Linked DNA regions of Homo sapiens: region 1 is linked to region 2. Evidence: fine-mapped expression QTL. A gene starts in region 2. The other region holds a variant in brackets. All regions are shown on one strand. Distances are from middle to middle. Region 1 overlaps SLC22A14 (solute carrier family 22 member 14). Region 2 holds the start of SLC22A14 (solute carrier family 22 member 14).

What was found.
Region 1: its variant is fine-mapped to the expression of SLC22A14 in cerebral cortex (GTEx, PIP above 0.99). The same link has a PIP of 0.9 or more in prefrontal cortex.

Annotation. Positions count from the first base shown.
Region 1 is chr3:38,307,362-38,319,418 of GRCh38, forward strand. It overlaps SLC22A14 (solute carrier family 22 member 14), which reads left to right. Exons shown (of 11, transcript NM_001320033.2): 4 at 205-359; 5 at 1,593-1,761; 6 at 5,638-5,758; 7 at 6,027-6,124; 8 at 6,366-6,580; 9 at 8,197-8,350; 10 at 8,963-9,163; 11 at 10,837-11,214. The coding sequence ends at 10,888. Among named protein-coding and RNA genes, the nearest start is that of SLC22A14, 31 kb to the left of the region's middle. RefSeq lists an enhancer at 9,187-9,723. The variant G/A (reference allele first, on the strand shown) is at 6,373.
Region 2 is chr3:38,275,788-38,287,844 of GRCh38, forward strand. SLC22A14 (solute carrier family 22 member 14) reads left to right here and starts at 6,507. Exons shown (of 11, transcript NM_001320033.2): 1 at 6,507-6,552. SLC22A13 (solute carrier family 22 member 13) reads left to right here. Exons shown (of 10, transcript NM_004256.4): 7 at 95-309; 8 at 500-608; 9 at 1,125-1,340; 10 at 1,585-2,970. The coding sequence ends at 1,678.

The DNA of each region.
Region 1 (12,057 bases), 32 kb after region 2:
GTCCCCGGGAGTTTCTGCTGGTCCCCGAGCCATCCCAACTCCTCCTCATGGGCATTCAGGGTTGGAGTGTGTCAGGCTGAGGGAGGTGAGGGTAGGGGTTCTCCAGGGACCCATGGATGGCTCAGGGCCTGGCCCAGGTGTATCCGGCTGGGGCCAGCCCGGGAGATCCCGGCACTTGGTGCAGCCTCCCTTTGACACCTGTAGGATGGGCCGCTACCCTGCCATCCTGCTGTCACTGCTGGGGCTGATCATCTTCGGCTTTGGGACAGCCTTCATGAACAGCTTTCACCTGTATTTGTTCTTTCGCTTTGGCATCTCGCAGTCAGTGGTGGGCTACGCCATCAGCAGCATTTCTTTGGGTGAGACTGGGCCTCAATGGGGCAGGGCAGGGTGGCACAGGGGCATGGCGGCATAGGCGGGTGACAAGGGGACATAGTGGCAGGGGGCGTGGCGGCATAGGCAGATGGCAAGGGGGCGTGGTGTAGCTGTAAGAGGGCATGGCGGGGGTGTGGCAGCGTGGGCATCTGCTGGGATCCCACAGGACACAGAGTCAGGGGCCTAATTGGACAGGCAGAAGTGGAAGGGATCTCCGTTCCTGGCTGCCTGGAGATGTCAGAGAATCAGTGCCCTGACTGCCCTTCCACCTTCATCCTCCTTCCTAACTCCCTCATACACCACACCTTCCACCGCATACTCTTTGCATACCCCCAAGCCCCATGGGTTACATTTACTGAGCCCTTAAGAAAGGCCAGGCAAAAGAAAAAACAACAAAAAACAGAAGAAGAAGGAGGAGGAGGAGGAAAGAAGAAGAAAGAAGGAGGAGGAGGAGGAGGAAAGAAAAAGAAAGAAGGAGGAAGAGGAGGAGGTGGTGGTGGCAGAGGAGGAGGAGGAGAAGAAGAAGAAGAAGGAGAAGGAGAAGAAAAAGCCAGGCAGCTGCTGAGCCCTTTATATGCATTGTCTCATTTCCTCCTGATGCAGCTGTCTTCAGCAGGCACTATTCTATTACTCCTTCAGCTGAGGAGGACTCTTTAGCCTCAGAGAAGTTAACCAACTTGCACAGGGCCACACGGCAACTAAGTGAAAAAGCTGGGACTTCAACCCAGGCCTATGAGACACTAAAGCACCCAGTGCAGCCTTATAGCTGCAGCTGCCTAGTTGCTCGGGGTTTCCTGGCAGGAGAACCTCTTCTCATTGGGAGCCTTAGGCCTAGGTGGCCAAAGCACGAATACACTCAGAGCAAAAACAAGGACAATGATTCCTTGCCTGACCATGTGTCAGGCCACGTGTCTGGTATTGCGTCTTTTCTATAAGAGGCACGTGGTCAGACAGGGGATGTGCAGAGGGAGCAGCCAGGTGGAGCGGGATGGAAGCTGTGTATATGATTAGGAGATAAGGGTGTCCCCTGGCGGGAACAGAGGCACTCTACCGGGCTCTGAGGGGCTGTCTCTGGACCCAGTGCAGAGACGAGCAGAAGAAGCTTTGCCTGATCTCAACTGTCCAGAGCAGGTGGGGACACCCAGCAAGGCTGGATGCAAGGGCAGCCCTGGGGACCCTGACGTAACCATGGTTTTGTCCTCTTGGCCTCTGCACAGCCACTGAGTGGTTAGTGGGTGAGCACCGGGCCCATGCCATTATCCTGGGACACTGCTTTTTCGCTGTTGGGGCCGTGTTGCTGACAGGGATCGCCTACAGTCTTCCCCACTGGCAGCTGCTGTTTCTGGTGGGTGGGATACTTGTGATCCCCTTCATCTCCTATATCTGGTGAGCAAGCGAGTACCGGGCATGTACAGGGCTGGGTCTGATGGGCTGGATGTCGATGAGTATGGAGGGTCCTTGAAGCTGTGGGAATGGGTGGGATTTCCCCTGGGAGAAAGTGCATGTGGATGGGATGAGATAGGAAGGCACCAAGGGCAGAGCCTCTGAACCTCAGCATTAACCTCCTCCCCGACCCAGAGAAGACCCTCAAAGAGATGTTAGAGAGGTGGTCAGAAAACCAGGAGGAAGAGTGTTGAAGGCCAAGGGGTTAAGGCCAAGGGAAGGGTCAGTGTTGAAGGTAAGAGGGGTGATGCTGGGAAAGGGTCTGCCAGCCTTGGTGACCTTCTTGAGGTGGCTTCACTGCAGTGGCAGAGGGTTGAGGAGTGACTAGGAGCAGAAGAAATTCAGCCAGGAGATGACTTTCTTAGAAAGAGGGAGAAAGGGATGATTTATATGGGCAACTAAGACAGAGTCAGGGAAGAGTATCAGATGTTTTGAGTGTAGGGGAGTCACAGACAGGAACCTAAGAGATTAAAGCTGGGAGAGGACAACTGATGGGGCAAAACTCGGAGGAATAAGGGTTGAGAACAAAAGTGAGATGCCAAAAGAAAGAAGGTTAACCTTGGGCAGGTGGGAAAAGAGAGGGACAAAACAGAAGGCAGAGAGGGAGGTGAGAAGAAGCTGAAGGAACCCACGTGTGAAGGGTTAGGCAGTTCTGCATGAAGCAATGATCATATTTAATCTTGAAATTATTACATTTAATCTTGACCCCTCTAGAAGAAGTATGCTATTCCCATGTCATGGGAGGTGGGGAGGAGGGAGAACTGAGGCTTCAGAGGGTGGAAATAACTTGTCTAACAGCACACAGCTAGAAAGTGGGGCACCTGGGATTTGAACTCAGGGGCTGTCTCCAAAGCCTCTGCATTTTAACTGTACCATATGTAGTAAGAATGATAAAAGATGGGGTTAACAGCATGGGGGCTGGGCGCAGTGGCTCATGCCTGTAATCCCAACACTTTGGGAGGCTGGGGTGGGAGGAGCGCTTGAGGCTAGGAGTTTGGGACCAGCCTGGGCAACATCGCAAGACCCTGCCTCTACACAAAATTTTAAAGTTAGCCAGGCATGGTGGCACACACTTGTAGTCCCAGCTACTTGGGAGGCTGAGGTGGGAGGATCACTTGAGCCCAGGAGATCATGGCTGCAGTGAGTTATGATTGTATTACTGCACTCCAGCCTGGGCAAAAGAGTGAGATCCTGTTTAAAAAAAATTTCAGTCCAGTTCAATTAAAAACTTTAATCTTACATCAGATCCACAGCTTTTTCCTGGCCCCTCGCTCAGGATAGTGGCCAAGGGGGATGAGGTCTGTTCTGACCTATTGTTCTTCCTCCTGTCTCCTTGTTCTGATTTTCCAGGTTCTAGGCATGGGATAGGGACATCAGATAAAATAGACCAAAGACTGACATGGCAGGGGCTATTATAGTCTCTCAGGGTCCTCTGTAGGGTAGATATTCAAATACCATCACTCTCAGGTCCATTCGTGGGTCTTCTGAGCATTGGAATTTCCTAATGCTCCCAGTGCTCTGTTTGTGACCTCCCTCAGCTCCTGTCCCTGGCAGTTCACCCCATAACCTCTTTCTGTAGGGGTCTCCTCATCCTAGCACATGGGGTGCCTTTAAGACAGCAGGGTCCACTTGGCCAAAAAACCCCACTGTTCCCCAGCCTCCACCCTGTTGTGGTGGGCTGCTCCAATCAACCTCCTGCCTTCATTATACCCAGATGAGAGATGGGCATCATTCTCCGGGTTTATGTAGGCCCTCAAACTCCAGGTGGCACATATTAACTCTCCTATAATCTCTCTCACTGTCTGGAATACCAGGACAAGCCCCCATGTTTCTGAATTAGCAAGTTCCAGCCAGAGTGGGATGGCAGATGTCCTTTTTCAAAGGCAGTCCCCGCATCTATCTAAGGAGTTCTCTTGAACTCCCCTTTGCCTAGCTCGAGTAGATGAGAGTTGTATGGGGAGTGAGGAGGAGAGATTCAAGACCCTGTCACTTCCATGAACTGGATTCCCAGCCTCTATTGGTAGGCTGTTAGCAGTGAGCACCAATGTACTATGGGTGCTGAAGGTCCCTCTTTTGACCTAGTTGTGTCCCCTAGGCTTTGGCAGTCTGGGCCTGTGATGGAAGGGGCAGTACCAATGATCTCTAATGTATCTTTGGGGTTATTCTTTTAGTGTCCTCAAGGATAGTGCCTGGCTTCCGCTGATTTGTACTGGCCTCCTTATCAAACAGTAGCTTGGCCACATCCTTGGTGTTCTCTCCCAAACACACTTTGTTATTCATGGAAAATGAATAAACAGCATGGCCAACATGAGCATTTGACAAATCTTTAAGTTCTGCTTCCCTTTTAATTATAAATTCTAATTTGTTTCTCTCTTCTCACATTTTACTATAAGTAGTCAAGAGAAGCCATACCACACCCTCAACACTTTGCTTAGGGACTTCTTCTGCCAAATGTCCTATTTCATCACTTACAAGTTCCTTCTTTCACAAACACTAAGGCATGAATACAGTTCAGCCAAGCTCTTTGCCATTTTGTAGCAAGGATTGCCATTTCTCCAGTTTCTAATAGTTCCTCATTTGCATCTGAGACCTCATCAGAATGTCTTTATTGTCCATATTTACGTCAACATTCTGTTCATGACCTCTTCAATGCATTTGTTACATTTCTCCCATTGTGTCCTCCCTCCCATTCTCTTTGTCCCTGAGAGTTGGTATCCTTTTCTTATTCCTGTTTTTTCAGTGGACATGAGGCCAATCCCCCATCTTTTTGAAGAAGTCTCAGTTTAATGGCTTTCTTTAGGAGAGTTCCACAGCCTTAGAGTGGAAAATGATGACTGATTGCTGAACCCTGGTGGGAGAGAGGAGGAGCAGGGCAGGTATAAGGAATGAAGTTGTCTCTAGTGTCTTGAGTGTGTGTTTATGGCAACCAGCCAGAGTCCTGGTCGGGGAGGGAGTGCTGGTATAAGAAATCAGCAGGCACAGTTTTATTAAAAAGTTATACCACCTTAGGGGACTGAGGCTGTACCAGTCCCCAAGTACATAGCTCTGCCTCTGTGTCCTCGGGCAAGCCTTTTACTCCTTGAGCCTGGGAGTAAAATGGGGATAATCATACTAGGTCCAGGTTTGGATGAGGATTAAACAAGACTATATATACAAGGGCACCAAGCACCATTTTTCACACATACGTGCTTTTTATGCCAATCTGTGTGGATTCTGACAGCCTGAGAGGATGGGAAAAAACAGAGAGGAGTTATTCTGAAGTCAAAGGCAATAGAGATGTGGCGGGGGAGAGATGGGACAGAGTAGAGACCTTCACTCACCCCTCCATTCACCCAGGCAGAGTGCTGGGCACTGGGGTCAGACCCAGGGTCCTGCCCCCTCACACTCCTCAGGCTGTTGGGGAGACAGATAGGGAACAGGAGAAATCCCAACTAAGGGCATGGGGGCTCTACAGGAGGCTGTGGGCATGGAGGTCGGAGCCCTCAGCATGCCTGAGCAGATAGGGGTGGCCCCCTAGATAGAAAAGGAGAGAGCTCTCAGTGATTACTGAGGGCAAATCAAGGAGACTGGAGACAGAGGCAGCCGGTGGTCAGGGTGTTACCTAGCAGCAGTGGAGGCCATGTGAGGCTTAGACAGGGGAAGGGCTGACCACCAGGGAGGAGCAGAGGGCAGCTCGAGGTCAGTGGTGGCCTTCAAGGCCCTGACATCTGAATCACCTCATGCTGGCACAGGATGGCCACAGCTGAGGCCACGAGAGGGCCAGCAGGGGGTCTCTGGGCATCATAGAACGGTGAGATAAGAGAGGGGCTGGCCACGCAGGATTCTCCCGGAGTCCCCGCGGTGGCTGATGATGAAAGGGAAGGTGAAGGAGGCCAAGCAGGTGCTGTGCTACGCCGCAAGTGTGAACAAGAAGACCATTCCTTCAAATCTGCTGGACGAGGTAAAGGGCTTCTGGCCAGGAGTGGGGCCGGAGCAGTGGGCTGTGGAAGGGCCCCTTCCCTCCTCATCCTTTCAGGTGGGACATTGGTCCAGAGGGTGCCCCCAGTCCACTGCTTAAGGACAATGGTGACAGCAAAATTGAACCCTGCCAGGGAAGGCCAGAAGCCAGCTGGCACTTTCAGGGACAGGCAGGCCTTGTGGGTGCTGTGGGGCTGGGGAGCAAGCTGGGGTCTTGGCCCTGCCTCTGACTGGTCCTGCTTGTTCTGTAGCTGCAGCTGCCCAGAAAGAAGGTGACTCGGGCCTCTGTCCTGGACTTCTGTAAGAATAGGCAGCTCTGCAAGGTGACCTTGGTGATGAGCTGTGTGTGGTGAGTATCCAGGGCTCGCTGGCAGGGACTGCGAACAGGTGCGCAGGCTGGAAACTCTAGGGAGAGGATGGGAATGGTCAGGCTGCAGGGGAGGCAGCCCAAGGACACAGATCACAGGTCTCTGTGCTTATTTCTCTCCTCCGTTCCTACCCTGACCCTTGCTGCTCTGCCTCTGTCTTTATTCCTGGCTCCGTGTGTGTGCGCGCGTGTGCACGCGCACTTGCCTCCTGGCTTCATCCAGGTTTACC[G/A]TCAGTTACACCTATTTTACGTTGAGCCTGAGAATGAGAGAGCTGGGCGTGAGCGTCCACTTCAGACACGTGGTCCCCAGCATCATGGAGGTGCCTGCCCGGCTGTGCTGCATCTTTCTCCTCCAGCAGATTGGGAGGAAGTGGAGCCTGGCTGTGACTCTCCTCCAAGCCATCATCTGGTGCTTGCTTCTCCTTTTCCTCCCTGAAGGTACAGCTCATCCTTCCCCTGTGGCCTGCCCACAGCCTTCCTGCTTCCCAAAACCCCTCCCCAGTGCCGCCTGCCACGGCCGGCCACCTAGACACCCTGGGAATCAGCCTTCTGCACCTATAGCCCACCCACCCCACAGAGGCCCCAGCACCTCCAATCCCTGGAGCACTGCTCTTCCTGGGTGGGGTCCCCCAGACAGGGCACCCACACTCTCTCAGAGGCCTGAAAGAGGAGGGTGTACTTTCCAGAGGACAGCAGGCAGCCTTCTTCCACCAGATTCCAATCCACCTTAGAAGTAGGTCTAATGGTTACATGTGAATAAATGATGGCAAAAATATTCCTTCAACTGCTGCCCAGGCCCACCTGTCATCTGTAGCCCCTTTGACTGGGAAATGCCTGTTGTTCCCTGTAGCTTCACCAGGAATAACCTGACCACTGAAAAATTGAGTGTAATATGGGGCTCAGCACTCAGGAACAGCTCTTGCATGGAGGCCCCTCCTTTCCAGAGGGGCTCAGTGCCCCATTCCTGCTGGCTTAGCACTAGAAAAGGAAACAGGAAGGGCTGGTGTTATCTTCAGAATCTCAAAGAGCCCTAAACAGTGGATACACCACAGGTCCTAGAGCTGGAGCGATCTGTGCAGCACATGCACTTAGAATGACTGCCTGCGGAGCCCTTTCACAGTCGCAGCAAGGGCAGGGGAGGCTAGATCCGGCCCTGCCTGGAGGGGCTCCCTCCCTTTCTCCAGGGCTGGAATTGTGTGTGTCTGGATTAGGACCCTTCCACTCCCAGATGCTGGCAGTGTAGATTGGCTAACACAAAATGTGGAAACAAATTCATTATTGAATATTAATTGCCTGGTGGTTTTTAAAAAAGCAGGTCTACACTGAGTCAAGCAGCAATATGTAAACTCAGAAGTGTGAGAGAAACTAGGAATGGACTCCCCGGTAGATAAAACTGGATCTCTGATTTCATCCCAGAGACAAGAAAAGCCAGGACTGGAATGGGAGTAAGGCCGGGGCAGGGTCCTGCAGAGGCTGACAGGCAGGCAGGCAGGGGCTGAAGCCCCCAGCTTCACCAGGTCTGAGGAATGGGCTTTCCCCAGTTTCCCCTTCATTGTGCCTGTCTAGCTGGCCGGAGAACATCCTGGAATGTTTGGGAGCCATCCCAGCCATTCAGGCCCCAGGAACCAAACACCCCCTTGCTCTGACCACCTTGCAGAGCCCCGGTGGTACAGCCCTGAGCAGGGGTCCCAACCCACAGGACACAGGCCTGGCCCTGAGTGGATCCCCAGTGGGGTGAGGAAGCTGCAATTGGGTGAGGAGGTGGAACGAAGACACAGCCTTGGAGGCAGAGAAGGGGGTGTTGGGTGTAGCATGGGAGACAGTGGCCTGAGAGGCCATGGGTGTCCCAGGGGACCTCCCCACCCCTGCTGACTAACTCTGCACTGCAAATGTCCTGCCTTCCAGCCTGGCTGGGCCTCTGACAACCTGCCACTCCTCTGACAGAATGCCTGAGCCTGCTGGCCAGCTGGGCAGGTGGTGGGGAAGGCTGTTCAGATGCCTTCTGGGAGGGGTCAAGGGAGGGCTGATGAGTGGAACTCCTTCACCCACCCCAGGGGAGGATGGCCTCAGACTCAAGTGGCCACGTTGTCCGGCCACAGAGCTGAAATCCATGACGATCTTGGTGCTCATGCTCAGAGAGTTCAGCCTGGCCGCCACTGTCACTGTGTTCTTCCTCTACACCGCTGAGCTCCTCCCCACTGTGCTCAGGTATGGGGTCTGGTGGGCGAGGGGGCCATGGGGACATGCGCAGGGAGTGACAATGACAAGATTAATGCAGCAACTAAGACAAGCATTCACCTGGTGACAAGCACTGTGCTAAACAGTTTACATAAGTGATCTCATTTAAACACCACCAGAAAATCCCCCAAATGCCATCACTAACCCTATTTCAGATGCAAGACCAGACAGATAAAGGCACTCGATTAAGGGCAGACAGAGCAAGCAGCAGAGCTGGGATTTGGCCCCAGGCAGCCTGACTCCAGCCCCTGCCTTGCACTCACTGCCTGGAAAGTGTTTGGGCCACTTGGAGGCTCAGATCCTTCCCTGAGGTTGGCGATGGGAGCACTATCTTCCTGCCTGGCTGGCATCACTGCCTGTGTCCTCTCCCCGCACATCCACATAATGCTGCATGGTTTCTGCCTCTCCCCCTCCTCATCCCCCTTGAAGGAGGCCCAGAAGAAATTATTGCCTACTTGGAATCACACAATGAGGATGGGACAGGGTGGAGACTGGAGAGTGTGGGTTTTCATGTAGCTGCTGGCCCTGCCCAGCCTCTGAACCCGGCAGACCCCTCACAGGAGCTCTCACCTCCACTTTCAGGGCGACAGGTCTGGGGCTGGTGTCTCTGGCCTCGGTGGCTGGAGCCATCTTGTCCCTGACAATCATCAGCCAGACCCCCTCCCTCCTGCCCATCTTTCTCTGCTGCGTCTTAGCCATCGTGGCCTTTTCCCTCTCCTCCCTGCTGCCGGAAACGCGAGATCAGCCCCTCTCCGAGAGCCTGAACCACTCCTCACAGATAAGGTAGGTGTGGGAGCCTCCTGGGCTGTGCCAGCACGGGGCCTGGCTCTGAAGCCTTGGCACAGAGAGCGTGCGGGACATTGTCCATCCCCGCCCCTCTGCCGGAGAGCCTGTGACTCGAAGGCTGCCATGTCCGCAGCAGTCTCTCCGCTCCTCTGGCTGCTGCTGTCTACCTGCTCCCACCCAGCCTCTGCCAGTTCCCATCCTGCTGCCCCTCCTGACCCGGACTGGGCCATGTCGTCTCCTTTCCTTGCCCCTGCCTGCCTGTCTGGATGGGTGCATTGCCTTTGGGCATACCCTCCAGGGGCACTCCTCCCAGAGGCTCCCTCTCCTCCCAGGGACAGGGGACTGGCTTGGAACTGACTCTGAGTACATCTCTTTTCCTGTCTGAACTCCTAGTTCAGTCCTGGTTTTCATAAAAAACCCAGTCTTGATGAAGGACTCTGGCCTCTTGGCCCCAGCAGCCCAGGACCCCATTTGGGAACTGGGTTCCACCCAACACCTCCATGGGCACTTCCGGCCTCTGATCTCCCAGGTGTCCCCTGGAGAAGACTTGTCATGATTGGCAGGACCATTCCTTCTGGGTTTTCGGCCAATGAACACGCTCTCCCTGGACCTGAGGGGACCTGAGCGCCAGTGAGGAGCAGAGGTTGCCCGAGGCCCTAGAGTGTCCTCTGCTCTGTGCCACAGCAGTCACTGCCTCTGGCCTTTCTCTGCCCTCCTCCCTACCATCTTCCCCCTGCCCTCCCTCCCTGCTCTCACTGGAACCACACATGCTAGGCACTGTGCCAGGGCTTGACTGTCAAAGGTCAGAGGTCAGCACTCCCCATCCTTGAGAAAACCATAGCTTATGCGGAGACAGATGATGCAAACAGTTCCTGCTAGAGGACTCTGACAGTGGGATATACAGGATCTGTAGGAACCTAACAAGGGAAGAACGTTAATTTGGGGAGTTGGAGAAAATGTCACAGTGACAACTGAGTAGGGCTTTGAAGGATGGATAGAAACTTGCCCCACTGTAGAGAGAGGAAGTTCAGCGCCGCACGGGAAGAGAGGATAATGGTTATGGGCACAGGTTCCATGTGCCGCAACTTCCTAGTGTGTGCACGGAGAAGTTACCTCATACCTCTGAGACTCAGTTTCTTCATTTGCAAAGTGGAATGAGAACAGAGTAATAACAATAGCTAAGATGAATTGAGCATTTGTTATGTGTTAGACCCTGTTCTACACATGCCTTATCTCGCTCTATCCTCAAAACAATCAAATGCAAGGTAGGTTCTGTCACTATCCCCATTTTACAGGTGAGAACATTGGGGCACAGAGAGGTAAGGCCATGTAGCCCAGCCATCCTCTCCCATGGGTTTTTTTGAGAGGATTAAACCTACATAAAGCAGCTGGCACAGGGTCTGGCATGTGGCAAGTGCTCAGTAAATGCTAGCAGTGAAGATGGTGGACCAACTTCAAAGACAGAAAAGAGAAGGGTCTCGCAAGGGTTGGGAGATGGAGCAGGCCTGATTCTGGAGGCTCCTGGCAAAGCTCGGCTGGGGACCTGCCGGAGTGAGAAAGCCTCACCTCTTGGGAACGCAGGGTTGGGCGCTGCTGAAGGCACAAGCCGCTGCTTTTCTCAGCTTCCAGAAAGATGTGGCCCTGGACTCATCCTCTGATGGCTCTTTCAGGAATAAGGTCAAGGACATGAAGACTAAGGAAACATCATCTGATGATGTCTGAGGAAGCGGCCAAGAATGTCATTCTCAATGCCCAGATCCTGAGATTGGACCCATACCCTGTCTCCAACCCTGCCTTGAAGCAATTCAATAAAGAGGAAGCAAACAGCCAGGCTCCCTGAGGGCCAGGCCCCCAGACCATCTTGGGTTGGAATTGAGTGGCCAAGTATGGGGTCATGGATTCCAGGCCACAAATTCCAGGCCTAGTTCAGTCTGGGGGCAGGGTCAGTCCTTCTCCCAGGCCAGCCCTTGACATTAAAAAAAATGCCCCCTCCTTCTGCAGGAGCTCTGCTGTGATTCATTCCAATAAAGGTACAATGTTGGTCTTGAGATGGCTGGGTCAAAGTTGCCCATGTGTGGAGAATGCAGAGGCCCTGGCCTGGAGGAAGATGGGTTAGACAGACTCCTTAGTGTCTTTGTCTAATCGTTCAGGGACAGTGAGGAGCTCTCTGGATGGGGGCAGGGGAGTGGGGAGGGCAATGTCTATGAGGGCCAGAGGTGAAGTGAGGGCAAGACTGTGCCTGCACACCAACCATACCCACTAGCCCATGCATCCGCCAGCATGGCGAGTTTCCACCTGAAGCACAGGCTGAGGACAGATTTCAAAGCTCCATTTTATGCACTAGTCAGGGCAGGGATGGAATGTAAAGGAACATTGAGAACTTCTCTCATTTGTCCCATTGCATAGGGCTTTCTCACCATCTTTCTGCTGATGCTGCAAATAAACATGGTCTTGGGAATTACCCAAATCGGTCCACATCCCTGGGGATGCTTTCCTGATGACTCCACCCTAGCTGACCTCTGGCCTCCACCACTCTGAGGATAAGCCCCCATACCCCAGCTCACACCCTAACTGCCCTGAAGGTGATTCTGCCCTTCCCAGCTGGCATGGGGGTTCTGCCAGGCAGGGCCCAGGACTCCTCAACCAGACTGTGAAGTCCTTGGGTCAGGCCTTCGGCACTACCTCCTCTCTCCCTGTCTTACCTCCTCCACGCTTGCCTAGTTTATTGGAAGATCATGGGCTTGCAGAGAATAGCTCTGGTTCGACTCCTCATAGCCTCTGAGGGAGGAAGACAGATAAGCAAGTCAGTTCTCATGGAGCCAGGGCAGCAAGGCCATGGATCTCCCAGGCAGGTTGGAGTCCAGTGAAGCAGGGAGTGGCCTCCAGCATTC
Region 2 (12,057 bases):
GTGTCCCCTGCTGTGACTGCTGACCAAGGCAGGCTCTCCCTCTGGGTGGTGTCTCGTCACCCAGCAGTGACAGGAACCCTTCATTACCTTGTAGGTTTGTGGACAGTCTGGGGTACTACGGCCTGAGCCTCCAAGTGGGGGACTTCGGCCTGGACGTCTATCTGACGCAGCTCATCTTTGGAGCTGTTGAGGTGCCTGCCCGCTGTTCCAGCATCTTCATGATGCAGAGGTTTGGCCGCAAGTGGAGCCAGTTGGGGACCTTGGTCTTGGGTGGCCTGATGTGTATCATCATCATCTTCATCCCAGCAGGTATCAGGGCTGGCTATCCCTCACCCGCATGCCCCCTCACCCACCGGCTGCCAGGGGCTAGACCAGTGGCCATTGTTCTGCTTCCAGGAGTAAAGGCTTCCCGGGGGTTTGGGTACAGAAGGGGTGGGGAGTTCCAGTGGATGGGACCGGCGTCAGGGCCCAGGTGATGGGGCTGTCTACCCTCTGCCAGATCTGCCCGTGGTGGTCACCATGCTGGCTGTGGTGGGGAAGATGGCCACAGCTGCTGCCTTTACCATCTCCTATGTGTACTCTGCCGAGCTTTTCCCCACCATCCTCCGGTAAGAGCTGCAGTGTGACTCCTGCTCCTCTGCTACTGAGATGCTGATTTGGCTGTCCCTCCTCGGCCCTCACCCCATTCCACAAATAGCTGACAGGGCTGGCTCTGGGGCAGCAGTGCTGGGCAGGGTCCAGGACAACTAGAAATCTAGCCCAAGCCCTCAAGTTGTCCCCAGAATGGTGGAGGACAGACAGGCAAGTAGGCCATGCCCTGGCGGTCAGGACAGGAATATGGGACACATCTAAGAATGAATGGCCACAGAGAAGGAGCACTTGGGGTGGAAGAGTGGTAAGGATGTGCAGCCTCTGACCTGAGACTTGACAGGCGAGCAGGGGTGTAGCAGGCAGGGAGCAGGGTTGGAGGCAGGAGCAGAGAGCAGGAACGCTGGCTGGGCTGGGTGAGGCTGGAGACCCTGCAGACCTTTGAGGTCTGGACTCTCCCGAGGAAATATACTAGGGTGAAGCTGAGGCCCAGAGTTGGGCCCAGGTCTACTTAGCTTGCCCTGGTCTTCCCCCAGGCAGACAGGCATGGGGCTGGTGGGCATCTTCTCACGGATCGGGGGCATCCTCACACCACTTGTGATCCTGCTGGGAGAGTACCACGCTGCCCTCCCCATGCTCATCTACGGCAGCCTCCCCATCGTGGCCGGCCTGCTGTGCACCCTGCTGCCAGAGACGCATGGCCAGGGCCTGAAAGACACCCTCCAGGACCTGGAGCTGGGGCCTCACCCACGGTGAGCTGCTTGCTTGCACTGAAACCACGACTTGGGTCTCACATTGGCCACGCACTCTATATGCCCAGGCCTCCACCTCATCACTCGTCCACTGTTGCCTAGAGGCTAATATGGGGTCCTCCAGAACCACAGACATCTGGCTGGCTTTAGTTCAGATTCCCCTTACTTTGAGGAGGGAGGTGGTGAGGACACTGTCATGGGACCAATTCCTGGGCAGCCAATGACAGCCTTCTGCTCCCTCTAGGTCCCCCAAATCAGTGCCCTCAGAGAAGGAAACAGAGGCCAAGGGAAGAACTTCCAGCCCGGGAGTGGCCTTTGTGAGCAGCACATACTTCTGATTGAGGTCTCTAAGAGCTGGACCATCAGCAGCAGGGAGCTGCCTAAACACCTCCTTGGATATGGCCAGGACCCACAGGGACACAGGGCAAGACCAGCCTTGCTTATGGAGGCAGGACACCACAATCTGGCCCATGGCTGTCACCTCCTGCCGAGTCCAATCCCAGACTGGGAACCACCATCTGAGACAGGACCTCCCGGCCTCCTTCACCTTTCTCATCTCCAGAGCCCTGCCCCCAATACTCTGTCTGGGTTAGGATCTTGGGTATGTCTTGGAATTAACTTGTCCTCTAACAATCTTCATGGGGTATGGCTCTCTTGATCTCCTCAATCTGGAGTCCCCTGCCCTCAAAACACAGTGATGTTCAGAACAGAACACAAGGTAAGCCCTTTCCAATTTGTGGGAACAGGAGGGGAGAGGAAACAAATGTGAAGTTGTGGACTCTACCCAGGCAGGTGGATGAAAATGCTGTGGATAAAAGGAAGGTTATGATTCCTTCTAGCGGATGGACCAGATTCCTCTGGCTAACGTATGGCCCCATAGGTCACTGGGTCATACAGAGAGAAGATTCAGTTCAGCCTAAATCAAAACTTCCACCTTGTGTTCACTTCAAAGATGGCCCAACCCCCGCCCTACACTCAGCTCATGCCTAACCTATGTGTGGCTCAGGGACCAGCTTGGGGAAGGAAAGGAGGTTTGTTCTGCTCCCCGCCTCACCCCGCCTCCTCCTGCTCATGCTCAGCTGCTTCTGGACCTTCCAGGGCCCATGCAGGGTGAGGGAAAGGGTAGAGGTCTTTTCACCGAGCTGCTGCTGGTTGCAGTTCTTTCTGGTGCACATTGGCTAATGCCAGTTGGTGTGTTTTGTCAGGCTTCTGAAAGCTGCCTTTTCCACGGGCCATCTTCTTGGGCTTCTCAGAGATCTTCTCAGGCCTTGGTATTGTTCCTTAGAATGAGCAATATGCTCCCAATGCACTCCCAGCTCCTCTTGGGACCCTTCTCCAGCCCCACCCAGCATTGCTCCTACAACCTGTCCTACAGCTGGCAGCCCCTGACCCAACCAAGATGGCCTTCTTGGCTGGGCGTGGTGGTTCATGCCTGTAATCCCAGCACTTTGGGAGGCTGAGGCGGGCGGATTACCTGAGGTCAGGAATTTGAGACCAGCCTGGCTGGCATGGCAAAACCCTGTCTCTACTAAAAATACAAAAATTAGCCCTATATGGTGGTGCATGCCTGTAATCCCAGCTACTTGGGAGGCTGAGGCAGGAGAATCGCTTGAACCTGGGAGGCGGAGTTTGCAGTGAGCCAAGATCGCACCACTGCACTTCAACCTGGGCAACAGAAAGAGACTCTATCTCAAAAAAAAAAAAAAAAAAAAAAGATGGCCTTCTTAGATGGGCGCCCATAAAGAGACCTCAAGCCGGACTGCCTTCCTCAGCACCTCCTTAGCCTGCAAGAACACCATATATCATTGTGTCACCAAATGGTAGATAGAAAAAGAGCTTGCCTGGCCACTGCCCCTGCCTTGCCCCAGCTAACCTCCCACTAGGGAGAAGGTTTCAGTCTCTCTTCTCACAGGCACCCCAGCTTGCTCACCTTCTCCTGCATGGCTGGTTCGGGGTTGGGCGTAGATGCTGGACCAGTTTCCTGTAAACCCAGCATGGAAGTGTTCAGCACCTGTCTTCCAAACACATGGATATTCCTCACTCACGATTCTCAGCTTTGAAGTGCTAGACAAAAGCTCTATTTAGCTTCCTACTGTGTGCCCATTCATGGCATCCTCTTGGGGAATACTAGCAAGTCTTTCTGGGCACAATGTGTCTCTCAGGCTGAAACTGCCAAGGGGTGCGGAAAACCAGATAGAAGTGGGGAAAGGGCCATTTCCCAGCTAAAGGCAGTTTCCTCCTCTAAGATATGGACACTTGCTCCCTTTAAGACGGAATGATTGTCATTCCCAGGAAGAGACCTGAATGGCCAAGACTGGCTAATTTTTGTATTTTTGGTAGAGATGGGGTTTTGCCAAGTTGGCCAGGCTGGTCTCAAACTCCTGAACTCGTGATCCGCCCACCTCGGCCTCCCAAAGTATTGGGATTACAGGCATGAGCCACCATGCCTGGTCCCTGGAGACTTTTTCTTTCCTTTTTGGGGGGATTATGGTTGGTTGGGGAGAAAGATTTTTTTTTTTTTCTGTGTGTATTTAAAAGTGTCCTGTGGTTTGCTCTGATGAATGGGTAAGTGTCCTTTAGCAGTCACTGATGGGAGGTTGGCTGCTGAGGCCTCTGGGACTCTGAAGGAGAAGATATGCAGCTTCACTGGACCCTGGTTGTGTATCTCCTTGATTTTGCTCCTCAAAGGTTACGGCAATGGTGACTATCAGTCCTAAACATTTAGTCCAGGTGTGTGAAAGCGAAACTGTGCCCCAAACAGTTAAAGACACCAATGACTAACAGAAATTCTTGAGTTTGCAGGATGGTAGGTAAGCAAAGAAACAACTTGCTGAGATGCTGAAAGTCCCTCCACTTGTAAGACAACAAAGCTGGCTAAAATAGGTTGGAACCAATGTGGCCAACTAGAGTCTGTGCAGTACCTGCTTGCTGACATCACAGCCTGAATTTCCACTGCGTGTTTCATACTCACTCCCCCCGTACCTGCCCATGTGATCTATGAGGTGTCATGAAGAGAACTGCGCATGCTGGAGGACTTTCCAGGCCTCCTCTTTCCTTCCACTAATCACCTGCTAATCTCAGAATCCCGACACCTTTTCTAATAAAAACACTGCCTTAGCACCAGCCCAGGGAGACAGATTCAAGCTGGACTCCTGTCTCCGTGTCGGCCGGCCTATAATTACAAGCTTTTCTTTTCTCAAAAACCCGGTGTCATCATATTGGCTTCTAGCACATTGAACAGCAAGCCCCTTTCTGCCTAGAAACAATCTGACCCTCATATTTACTAGTTTTCTCAACCTGTAACCAAGGGAAACAAAAATGACCTCCTAAATTTTTAACAAAGGCAATCAACATTTGTAGCTGGTATGAATATTTGTTCTGTAAACTCATATCTGCAGGCAACAGAATGTTTCTTTAGCCTATGAGCCTCCATCTTGCTGAGCTGATTGGAAATTCATCTCAGCTGTTATTGGGGCTCTTCTCAACCCAGAGAGTTCTGGGATCTTTTTTTTTTTTTTTGAAAAGGAGTCTCAGTTTGTCACCCAGGCTGGAGTGCAGTGGTGCAATTCTCTGCTCACCGCAACTTCTGCCTCCTGGGTTCAAGCGATTCTCTTGCCTCAGCTTCCCGAGTAACTGGGATTACAGGTGTGCGCCACTGCGCCAGGCTAATTTTTGTATTTTTAGTAGAGACAGGGTTTTGCCATGTTGGCCAGGCTGGTCTTGAACTCCTGACCTCAGGTGATCCGTCTGCCTCAGCCTCCCAAAGTGCTGGGATTACAGGCGTGAGCCACCATGCCCAGCCGAGTTCTGGGATCTTATGTAACCAAAACAAACCAAAACAAAGGGGTGCTCCCACCCTGCTCTTCAGTCTCACTGATGGCTTCTGGGTGCTCACTGTGCTGTCTGCTTGGTCCCTTTGACCCCCAGAGTGCTGCTGCTCAAGAGTGGGGAACTCTAGGGGGGATGAGGGGCCTAGGACCAACCACTGAGGTGACCTGCAGACACCCCGAGGGAGGTCTGGTGAAAGAGGAAGGATCTGATGCCCCAGATACCAATAAGATTGCAGTGCCCTGCCCCCAAACAAGTGAAGATTGAGCCATAGGAAACTGCAAAAGAGCTGTAAGTAGGTTTCCCTGTGATCAATACTTCATTTTTTTTCAAATATATGAAATTCTTTTAATTTTTTTTTGTGTCTTAAGTGTCTGTGTTAGTCCATTTTCTGTTGCTTATAACAGACTGCTTGAAACTGAGTTATTTATAAAGAAAAGAAATTTATTTCTTACAGTTCTGGAGGCTGGGAAGTCCAAGGTTTAGGGAATACATCTGGTAAGGGCCTTCTTGCTGTTGGGAACTCTGCAGTCTCCCAAGGGGGCACAGGTGAGGGAACCGAGCAAGCTAGCTTGTCTTTCTTCCTCTTGTTATAAAGTCACCAGTCCCATTCTCATAACTCATTAACCCATTAATCTACTAATCCATGATTGGTGATTCATGGATTAACAGATTACACTCATGACCCAATTACATCTTAAAGGCCCCATCACGCTACCACACTGGAGATGAAGTTTCAACATGAGTTTTGGAGAGGACAAATATTAAGCCATAGCAATGCTCTAATTTTGTTGAGGTCCTAAGTACATGCTGTACTGGTACAAGGATGGTCTGCCTTGTACTAGGCCCTGTGCTGGTTTTCCTGTCCTGCCACTTTGGCCTCCCTTCCCCCAAGCATGAAGCTTGAAGCCCTGTTCCTGCAATCTGGCAGAGGAGGCTTCTAGCTTATGGGGGAGATGGGTCAGACCCCGGCAGCTCTGACCAAGGCTGGTTGGCAGGGGAGTGTCACGGAGAGACAGAGCAGAAGTGAGTGGGGTAGGGCCAAGCCATTTCCAGCTGTGGGCTCAGGAAGGCTTGAAGGATAGTTGATAAATGAGTGATATCTGGAAGGACAGGAGAATTTCCGAGAGTGGAGGTGGAGCCCTCGTGTGGAGGAAACAGCCTGCACAAAGACAGGGGCAGGGGGGTTCGTGTGGCAGTTTTCCTGACCTGCCTTGCCCCTGGAGGCTACAGCCAGTTGTGTCCCTGGAGTAGAATGCTGACCCTCACCATTCCCAGCTCACCCCAAGGACCTCCCCACCCCATTGTGACACTACTTCCTGGACACCAGTGGAGCTCAAAGGTTCTGCTTCCAAGGGTCTGGCTGGGCCTGGATTGTGGTCAGGTGGGCCCTGGCTTTGGCTTGCGGTCCTGCCTACAGGGAGGCAGGGCCGGGAGGGTGTGGAGAGTAGAAATTATGATGACCCCTGGCAATTTTGCGGCCGCGTTCTCAGCACAGGTGTGGACAGGAGCCTGCCTGGGCCTGTTTGGCTGTGGGGAATCTGTGGAAGGAGCGGGCTGCCCTCCCAGAAAGCGTGAGTTCTCAGGTGTGGCGTCTGGCCATCTCCTGCGGCAGGTGGAGTGCTCCTCCTGGCTATGCTTCTCCCAGGCCTCAGTTACCTCTTTGGCACATTGAGAGCCAATTGCCTGGGGCCTGTCCACCTGGCAGAGGACCTTTGGGATGAGTAGAGGGAGTGAGTGCTCCAGGGTATTGGGGTATCAGGTGGTGCTGGGGGATGCTGAAGCGGTCCCTGCAGAGGGAGGCTGGTACAGATGGCTCTGGTCCAGAAGCCACATCTCTGAGAGGACAGCGGAGGCTCTCCCTCCCTGGAAAGTCTCCTTTATCCACCTCCACCCTCTCCAGCCTTACACACATACATCCTGTATTGGTTTCCTATTGCTGCTATAACAAATGCCCACACTTAGTGGCTTGAAACAGCAGAGACTTATTACCTTATGGTTTTGGAGGTCAGAAGAACAAATGGGCCTCAGCAGGCTAAGATCAAGGTCTCAGAAGGATTGCCTTCCTTTCTGGAGGCTCTAGGGCAGAGCTCATTTCCTTCCTTGCCTTTTCCAGCTTCTAGAGCCTCCTGCATTCCTTGGCTCTGGGACCCCTTGCATCTTCAAAGCCACCGACGGCTGCCCAAATCTTTATCACGCTGCATTTCTTTGGGTCTTATGCATTTAAGGATCCTGGGATTAATGGGACCTACCTGACAATCCAGGATAATCTATTTTAAAGTCAGCTAAGTAGTAACCTTAACTTCATCTGTAACTTTAACCCCCCTTGCCATGTAAGGAAACATATTTACGAGTTCTGAGGATTAGGCATAGATCTCTCCGGGGGGCGCTTATGCAGCCTCCCCCACCTCCCAGCACACACACATCTAAGCATGCTCTCCCTCTGTGTTCCCTGCCTCTTATGCACCTCCAAATTCTGCTGAGATAAGGGATCCCGAACTCAGGGCCAGGCAGGAGGCAAAGACAAGTGAAATGGGGAAATGGTGCTGGGCTCTGCTGGGCCTCCTGCATGCACACATCAGAAGTAGCAGGAGCCGGGTGCAGTGGCTCACGCCTGTAATCCCAGCACTTTGGGAGGCCGAGGCGGGAAGATCACTTGAGGTCAGGAGTTCGAGACCAGCCTGGCCAACATGGTGAAACCCCATCTCTACTAAAAATACAAAAATTAGCCAGGCGTGGTGGCTTGCACCTGTAGTACCAGCTACTCGGGAGGCTGAGCCAGTAGAATCACTTGAACCCAGGAAGCAGAGGGTGCAGTAAGCCGAGATCACACCACTACATTCCAGCCTGGGTGACAGACCGAGATTCTGTCTCACAAACAAACAACAACAACAACAATAATAACAAAAAACAGAGCAGACTCTCAGTCTAAAGGAGGGGCCCCTGCTCAGATTTGCTAATTGTTGCCAGATGGGAATGCTGTCCCATTGGCCAAACTTCAAAAAGAAAATGCTGCATTTATGTGAAATCAACTTTTGGCAGTTAAATCACATTCCAAGACACAGTGAGGCACCAAATGGGCTAGCCAAGGGAAATGTGTCTGCAGGCTGGATTTGTCCCGTAGACGATGAGCTGGAGACCTCTTCCCTGGATTATGGAACAGCAGTCGCAGTCTGAGAAGGAGGCATCCCCCTCGTGTGACTGGTAGAAAACTAGGGGCCCAAGAGGGAAAGGGGACTCCTCCTCAAGCAGACAGCTCTTCTCCATCCCTGTCCGCCCTGTCCGATAGTAGAGCGAGGGGCTCATGGTGGCTTCTGAAAGTGGCCCTAGCCTTGGCTAGGGCTAGTGGGGCAGCTTGGTGACATGCCCAGGTGAGGACCCCATGGGGGCTGGGGGCCAGGCTGGGTCACTCCTCCAGGGCCGGCCTAAGAGGGATAGATTTGGCGAATGCAGCTCGGCCTCCCCACAGATCCCTGCCCTCTAGGCCCACCACAGTGCCATCCCCAGCCAGGCAAGGGCCCCTGGTGTCCCAGCCAAGGCCCGTCCTCTAAAGAATTCTCTGAAGAAACTTTCCCAGAATGCTGGGAATGTGCAGGGATCTTGGCAGAAATGAGAGGAAGAACTTAGAAAGGAGGCCTCCGCTAATCATTACAATATGCCTCAGTGTCTTCTGCAGTGCTTAGGGAGCAAGTTCCCGTGAGACGAAGGACCAGAGCGTAGGAAATGTGAGAATACATGGAAGAATGTCCCCTTCAAGGACACCTGGCCTGACAATGTGGGTGATCAGCCTCCCACAAAATTAAAAAAAAAAAATCACAAGAACAGAGACAAGGGTTCTCATCATACTACGAAATGACCGAAAAGCAATACAAATTATAAGACCCAATGCTGCTGGTGGGACTGTAAGGAAATGGACACCTCGTGAACTGTTGTGGACTCTGAAATGGGTTGCTCTTTCCGGAGGACATTACGAGCCTATGTTATAAGAGCCATATAAACAATCCTACTTCTTGGACCTTAGCCCAGGGAAGAAAGACAGCCTTCTGCACCATAATGTGTACAGAAAAGTTGTCTGGGGTAGTGAGGAAGCAGTGAGAAACAGCCTTGGTGCCCAGTAGCTACCATGAAGTAAACAGCACCTTAACAAAGATTCCGTAGCCATTAACATGATCAATGTGAAGATGAGTTTTGGCTGTGGAAAATACTAAGAGCAAGTAGTAGCAGGCAGAAGTTCACTACACTAAACAGGGGATACCCCCACCACAGTGGGGGACTGCTGCCTTTATCAGTCTCCAGCAGAGGGGAGGGGGCCCTGCAGGAAGAGCAGGAGTGGATGTTTCAGGAGAGGGTCCTTGGGCACAATATTTTTTCAAAATAAAAACAGACACGTGTGAATCCATCACCCACCCAAAGCACCAGAACATTTCTAATGATTTCAGTCCACCTCTTCCTTGACATCATTCCTCTGTCTCCCCTCAGAGATGGTTTCCTGAATTTCATCCTTGCTGTTAAAAAAAATCTATAGTTTTATTGCATGACATACTGAAATTATTTCTTTAGTCTTGCTTGTTTCCAAACTTTATAAAAAGAGCATCAGTTTTCTGAGGCTTACTTTTTTCACTGAACATCCTGTTTTTGAGACTCATACAGGTTGATGGATGGAGCTGAAGCTTCTTCATTTTCATTGCTATATTGTATTCCACTATATAAATCTACTACAATTTAGGCATTCTTTCATTGATGTGCATTTGGGCTCTTTTTTCACAGTTGAAAAGTGTCATGAACATTTTGGTACTTATTTCCTGGATCATATGTACAAATGGCTCCCTAGAGTATATACCTGGGGGTAGCATTGCTGGGTCATAAGGTATACAGGTATTCAACTTTATAAGACAATGCCAAATTGTTTTCCAAAGTGGGTCTATGAATAATTCTGCCAGGAATGTATGCAAGATAGTTTTCTCCACCACTTGGTGTTATCAAACTTCTCAATTTGGCCAGACATGATGGCTCACACCTGTAATCCCAGCACTGTGGGAGGCCGAGGTGGGCAGATCACCTGAGGTTGGGAGTTTAAGACCAGCCTGACCAACATGGAGAAAACCCGTCCTACCCAGTCTCTACTAAAAATACAAAATTAGCCGGGTGTGGTGGTGCGCGCCTGTAATCCCAGCTACTTGGGAGGCTGAGGCAGGAGAATTGCTTGAACCCAGGGGGTGAAGGTTGCGGTGAGCTGAGATTGTGCCATTGCACTCCAGCCCAGGCAACAAGAGCAAAACTGTCTCAAAAAACAAAAAACTTCTAAAGTTTTGTCAATCAAATGAGTATAAATATCCTACCATGGTCTTGATTTGCATTTCCCTCATTATTAAAGAGGTTGAGCATCTTCACATGTTTGTAGGCCACACGAGTTTCCTCTTCGTAAAATACCTGTTCAGGTCTTTGGCCCATTTTTCTTTTCTTTTCTTTTTTTTTTTTTTAGACAGAGTCGCTCTGTCACCCAGGCTGGAGTGCAGTGGCACCACCTCAGCTCACTGCAACCTCTGCCTCCTTCAAGCAGTTCTCCTGCCTCGGCCTCCCGAGTAACTGGGATTACAGACGTGTGCCACCACGCCTGGCTAATTTTTGTATTTTTAGTAGAGACTGGGTTTCACCATGTTGGCCAGTCTGGTGTCGAACTCCTGACCTCAGGTGATTCCACCCACCTCGACCTCCCAAAGTGCTGGGATTACAGGCGTGAGCCACCGTGCCTGGCCCTGATTTGTGTGGGTTTTTTTTTTGTTTGTTTGTTTTTGAGATGGAGTCTTGCTCTGTTGCCCAGGTGGGAGTGCAGTGGCCAGATCTCAGCTCACTGCAGCCTCTGCCTCCTGGGTTCAGGTGATTCTCCTACCACAGCCTCCCGAGTAGCTGGGATTACAGGTGTGCACCATCATGCCTGGCTAATTTTTGTATTTTTTTTTTACTGGAGACCGGGTTTCACCACATTGGCCAGGCTGGTCTTGAACTCCTGACCTCAGGTGATCCACCCACCTTGGCCTCCCAAAGTACTGGGATTACAGGTGTGACCCACTGTGCTTGGCTTGATTTGTGGTTCTGTACATACTCTTTACATAGTCTTGATCCTAGTCCTTTTTCAGATATAGGTGTGTGTGTGCGTGTGTGTGTGTGTGCAAATATCTCCTTCCAGTTGTGTCCAGTTTTTTTCCACTTTAAGATTTTCATTTTTAAGTTTTGTCTGCTTAAAACTGCTATATTGCTAAATTTGGCAAGTTTAATATTGCTATATTGTATTTCACTGTATAAATATACTACAATTTACACATTCTTATATACCTGTAGTCAAATTTATAAATTTAAAATTTTGTGGTTAGCACAAAACAGCATAGTTTTTGTGTCTTGATTAGGAAATCCTTCCTCACCTGAAAGTCAGAAATAGATTCCCTTATATTTTCTATTAAAAGTGTTGTTCTTGAAATTTAAGGCCTTAATAGGGCTGGAATTTTTGTTTATGATATGATGAATCTAATTTTAATTTATTTTTCCATTTACTGACCTATCATGCCACTCCCCTCTCAGATATCAAAACTTTAAATTTGCATGGATATATTTCTGGGCTTTCTATTAGCTATTTCTATGTTGGCATATTCTCATTAATTCATATAACTTTATAATAAAGTTTGATAATTTGCAGGGCACATCATTCTTATTATTCTTCAGAATTTTCTTAGGTATTTATGCCCTTTGTCCTTCAATATACATTTTAGAATCTTCTTGCCAAAAATAATTTTATAAAAAATACCTTTTGGATTTTGACTAGAGTTGTGTTGAATCTACAGATCAATATGGAGAACTGACAACTTTTATTCATGACCATGAGATAGCTCTACAT